Linked DNA regions of Homo sapiens: region 1 is linked to region 2. Evidence: fine-mapped expression QTL. A gene starts in region 2. The other region holds a variant in brackets. All regions are shown on one strand. Distances are between the middles of the regions.

Region 1 (2,914 bases), 200 kb before region 2:
CCTCACTTGTATAATTCTTGTCTCGCAGGGTTGCCCTATGTAAAGTGAAATAGCGCAGAGTGCTTAACACCTGGTCCAACAGCAAATAGCCTGTAGTTAGTACCCATTTTATACTTAAACTGACATTGGGCATTGACTAGCTTGACTTAAATATTACACTGCTATCTACCTTTTTACTTATGTCTAACTCTTTAGTTAAACTGTAAACTCCTAGACGGCTGACAGTATGTTTTAAACCAGTGGTTCTCAAGCTTTGGAGGGCATCAGGAGTTGCTGAAGCTCAGCTGGCTGGGCCTCACCCCCAGAGTTCCTGATTCCGGAGGTCTGAGTCGGAGCCGATAATTTGCATTTCTAACAAGTACTCAGGTGATACTGATGCTGCTGTTCTTAGGACCCCACTTAGAGAACCACAGTTTTAGACAACTCTTTATTCTCCCAAAATCTAGCACAGAGGGAGACTTACACATTCACAGTAAATTATTTATGCAAAAGATAATACACATGCCGGAGGGAAAATCTGCCCCATCCCCATTGTGAGAAAAGTTTCAGTACTACAAAAGCTGAGCAGAAAGGGATGAGCAAAGAAATCTTGTTGAAAGAAAAGGTGCTGGTGGCACAATTGAACACTGACTGTCATCTGTTGGATCTCGGGGCATGTGCAAAATGCACACAAGAAGCCAAACAATAGCTCAGCCAACTCATGGCTGCCTGAGTTCTGAGCTCAATCTATAACAATGCCAGCAGGGCTGCTGGGATCCATCTGCTACTCTCTTTCTGATAACGGATCTGGGGTCTCTCTGGAAGAAAATAGCTTGACAGGAAGAAAGAAGGATTAGGCCAGCTGACAATGTCTGGATTTATGAAGCTGCCCTGGAATATGGTAGAGCTTTTAACCCCTTCTGCACTTGGCTAATCCTCAACATACCCCAGCTATTCTTTCCATTGTCCTTGTTCCTTTCATCAAGAAATGTAATTTGTGAATGCCAAAGCTCCCCTGGACACATTCTGTTTCCACACAAATTAAGTTCCCAGAATTTAATACTGCAGGAAGCCTTGAGATCTTTCAGCCCAACTCACTAATTTTACGCATGAGAAAACCTAAGCCTGGGATTAATCCTAAAATGTATAATCAGTCATGGTAGAGGCAGGCTGGAATCCAGATTCCTTGACTCACTGTGGGTATGTGATGTGTATAGTCCTTTA[C/T]ACTCCCAAGCTGAGTAGCAAAAATATATCTTTTCTCGCTTTTTTTTTTTTTTGAGACGGAGTCTGGCTCTGTCACTCAGGCTGGAGTGCAGTCACACGATCTCGGCTCACTGCAACCTCCACCTCCCAGGTTCAAGCAATTCTCCTGTCTCAGCCTCCCAAGTAGCTGGGATTACAGGTGCTGCCACCACCCCAGCTAAGTTTTGAATTTTTAGTAGAGACGGGGTTTCACCATGTTAGCCAGGGTGGTTTCAAACTCCTGACCTCAAGTGATCCACTCACCTTGGGCTCCCAAGGTGTTGGGATTACAGGTATGAACCACCGCACCTGGCCGATATCTTTTCTCTATTACATTTTAAGGAGAAAACATGACTTTCCCCGTTACTTAAGTTACTTTTCACAATTTGTTCTTTTGTCCCTGGAAGCAGGTGGGCTTCATAAACACAAATGAAGAGAAATGAAGAATGCTAAACAGTTTCAGCAGAGACTGGAAGCTTGAGGGCAGTGATGACATCCTATTCCCTGATATATGCCCATTGGCTACCCAGAACCACGGCACAGAGCAAGCTCTCAAAAACCACATGGTGAATGAATGAATGAATGAATCACTGATTTAATGACAGTTTGCCAATTTCTCTGCCAATTAGGGAATGAATGTGTTACACTGAGATTTGGAGACTGCTGTGGAGCCTGTCTCTTATCTAACTATAAGTTAGGTGCTTACATAAAACCAGAAAATGCCTTGTATTTGAAAATATGAAAATGCCTCTGTATGCTAAGCGGTGTGTCAACTGAGAAAGTACAGGCTTTGGAGGTGGCAAGCTTCGAATCCCAGGTGTTCACTCTGGTTACTTAATTCTAGGCAAATTATAGAAAATTTCTGAGCCTTGAATCCCCCTACTCAACCCTACTCCTTCCATTCCCCCCACTGGCATGTTAGGATTAAATGAGATAATGTATGCAAACTGCCTTGCACATAGTAGGTGCTGATTAAATGTTAGTGTCACTTCCTTGTATTCCCAACTGCCTGTTGAAGAGTCATGTAGGTATTCAAGTAGGTGGGGTGGCAGTTGGGGGGTAGGTATAAGACTGAATGAAAATTGAAGGGGCTTTTTGGCTGAAAATGTACATAAATTATCATTATGGTTATAGTTATCTAGTAGCTGCTTTTACTGATGGTGTGCCTTGCATTCAATATAAGCAAAGCTGCTATCATCCAGGTATTCCTCATATTCCATAACCTCTAACCATTTCCCAGGTTTCTAAATAAATTGCTTTTCAGGAAAAAAAATAAATCTAGCTTTTTGCTTACCCATTTGGTCTTGATATCCTGGTTCCGAGCTCAAGGAACTCTGTCTCCTCCTCCATTTCCGTGTCAGGGATCATGTTTTTCTGAACAGGCTGTGGTGAAAGCATTTCCCATTCATTGTCATGGGTGACAGCCTGCAACGTAACTGCATCCGGGCCAGCCCTGCCTCGGCTCTTACTCTTCTGTGATTGGCTGACTGGACCAGAGGCTTCCTCTAGTGCCAAAGATTCTAGAGGCTTCATTTCTTCCAGAATCTGCAGCTGGGGACCCTCACCCAAGCCGAGTTCAGAGAACGGCTCCACAGTCTTGCCAGACCACCCAGGCCCTGAGTCCCTGGCATCCAGTGATGGATCACCAACCTCACTATGGCCCAAGAACATCCAACTCTGGTCTTGTGCAGGG
Region 2 (2,914 bases):
ATGATCACAAACTTCCTCAACTCGGAAATCTCCACAAACGTTCAACTCTCTGGGAGGTTTCAGGTAGAAAGTTTTATATAAGCACTTATCAACTTTAATGGTCTTTTACAAGATAGTTACAGTTAGACCATTGTAAGGATCACACTTCCGTCTGCACTCTGAATGGTGGTTCAGGCATCTTTGGGCCCTCCCTTCCTGCACTCCCTTTGTTGTGCGAGGGTAAATGAGTTACAGTAATAACCCTGCAAATATCCTGCCTTGTGATTAAAACATTACCTTAATGCAGACTTTACATTTTGGCTTCTATGAAGGCTTAAAGGTTAAAGGCATCATAAATTATGCATTTCTTTCTATGCCAGGCCTGTAAAAGGTGCTTTTACAGTTCTTTAAAGATATTGCTTCTAAATGAGTACAGGCTTTTCTTTTTTTTTCTGCCAAAACAGAAACATTTCCATTATGTTTATTACTGCTGTGCTGGAGAGCCAAAACAGTTTGGAATTAAGAAACTGCTAGAGTCTGTTGTTTCAGAATGTGTAGCAACTGTTAACATACACAGTGGAGTTGCCCATTCACTGTTTGGACAGTGATATGGTAAACATGGGCTAACACACAGGTCTGCTCCCGGGAGAACGATGATCTGGTAAACTCCAGAACACCAACAGTTAGAGCTTTCCCCTTCTGCCTCCGCCCCAATTTACAGATGTGAACAGGAATTAGCGAGACACAAGACACACTAGAATATCCCTAACTCCTGCAGTGGAGCAAGCTCTATTCTGTGGATTCTCCAGTACCACACATGTCCTTGCTACCCAGCACCCTGACTTCCTCACTTTTGTCACCTCCAGCTGAAGTACAGTTCTAAGGGTCTCTTTTTTTCCTTTTACACTTACACGTAATGCATCTGCAGAAGGCTGGGCTCTTTATCTCAAGGAAGACCACACCCATTTATCCCTTAGCTTTCAGGAGCAAACTGCTGATTTAGGGACCGAAGCTGGACTGAAGCGACCCAACTTCAGCCAGGCCACAACCTCCTTCAGCTCTGCACCTCGTCTGGTTGCGGTGGAGGATTCTGGAGACAGATTGCCAGCTTTAAGAGCCAGAGTTCCTGAGATTTCTTCCAGGAGACAACCCGCACACCCTGATAACTCCGTGGCAAAGTTGTTTCTTCCTCCTCTGCTGCAACACCTTTTCCTCTCCACCTTTCCATTAGCATACGCGCGCGCGCACACACACAGCTTTGCTCACTCAACTTACCAGTTTAGATTTGGCGCGTTGCAAAAATTCTTCCATGTCGTGGCTAGGGGTTTGGAACCCGGGTACTCGGAGGGGCGCAGTGGAAAATCTCGGCCCAAGGAAGACGAGCGGGGTCCCGGGAAAGTGGCCCGCCGGGGCGCAGCGACCGACTGCTCCCTCCTGCCGCTCTGAGGCGGCTGCGGCGGAGGCTGTGCTTGCGCCCTCGACCGTCTCGCCCAGGGCTCCCCGCCCCACCCCTCGCCCGGCCGCCGGCTCTGGGCACCCGACTCTGCCCTAATAAGGAAAGTGGGTGTGCCGCCCAGGAGCCCCGGGGCGCGCCGGGCACGCTCTCTGGCACGCGCCTCGGGCGCCGTGGCGCGTGGGCGGAGGTGCAGGGGTATGGCGAGGGGCTCCTCCGCCAATCGCAGGGCCGTGCTGCGGCCTCCTGACGTGGCGCGCCGAAAGCTGCTGCAACCATGGACAGCGCCCAGAAGTGCGAGCCAAGTGCAAGGGGCTGCTGCAGAGGGAGGCTCTGCCGCAGGCACCGCCGCGGTCAGCGGGGGAAGGTGGGAAGAGGGAGACGGGTCCCAGGAGAGCCCCCGCCTCGCCCAGCGCCTCACTGGCTGGCTGGCGCGTTACGGAGCACTCCGGCGGTCACTTAATGATCTGGTCGGCTGGCCTGGCCGGGGGAGGCACTCAGCTAGATTGGCGTGGGAGGGACGAGGAGAGAAAGAGGGGAGTTACTGCTGAGCTAAAAGCAGTACGACCTTGATGGATAATAATCAGAAGAGCAGGCTAGGAGGTTGGGCGAGGCTGCGTCTTTCCTCCCTACCATGAAAACATGTCCACACAACAATGGGCATCCACAGTTCACCCCAACTAGGTGCCCTTATGTCAGCCCTGGGACTAATGCATAGATACATCCTTCTGCAGTTCCCATCCACTGACATGTACCCTCAGGGAAAGCTGGGGCAATAGAACCTTGCTAAGGTGAGGTGCAGTCTGCAGACCGGCAACATCAGCATCGCTGATCTTATAGAAATGCAGAACCTCAGTCCCCTGCTCCTACTTACCAAATCAGAATCTGTGTGTTTCTATGAGACCCTCAGATGATTTCTATGCTTGTTAAAGTTTAAGAAGTACTACAATGAACAAATGAACTTATATCTACAAACCTTATTTTAAATCATGGGGTTTTGTTGTATGTAGCCTTGTCCGGTCCCCAAACACACTACATCAGGCTTTCTCTGACCTCTGGGCTTTTGCACACCACCTGTAAGATCCTTCCAGCCCTTGTCCTAGCCCCCAGCCTCAGCTGTTCTACAGAAGTAGCCTCAACCCTGACTGCACAGTAAAATCACATCGTAATCACCTGAGACTTGAGAAAGTACTGATACCAGGGCTTTATCCCAGTCCAATTAAATTAATATCTCTGGGCATGGGGCCACAGCATTTCTGTGGAAAGTGACCCAAGTGATTCTAATGTGCAGTTCAGGTGTGATGCTCTGATTCTCGATGAACTTTACATGTATCTAAATCACTTAGAGGGCTTGATGAAACACAGATTTCCGTGCCCCATCCTTAGAATTTTAGCCCTAATAGGTGTGGCTTAATGGGCCTGAGAATGTCCATGTATACAATCTCCCAGGGTTTGCCGATGCTGCTGATCCAAAAACCACAC

What was found. PIP is the estimated chance that this variant, and not a neighbour inherited with it, causes the effect.
Region 1: its variant is fine-mapped to the expression of PRUNE2 in T cells (TOPMed, PIP 0.95).

What each region holds. Positions count from the first base shown.
Region 1 is chr9:76,700,822-76,703,735 of GRCh38, forward strand. It overlaps PRUNE2 (prune homolog 2 with BCH domain), which reads right to left. Exons shown (of 19, transcript NM_015225.3): 9 at 2,516-2,914. Among named protein-coding and RNA genes, the nearest start is that of PCA3, 62 kb to the right of the region's middle. The variant C/T (reference allele first, on the strand shown) is at 1,204.
Region 2 is chr9:76,904,674-76,907,587 of GRCh38, forward strand. PRUNE2 (prune homolog 2 with BCH domain) reads right to left here and starts at 1,441. Exons shown (of 19, transcript NM_015225.3): 1 at 1,255-1,441. The coding sequence starts at 1,290. RefSeq lists a silencer at 1,511-1,570.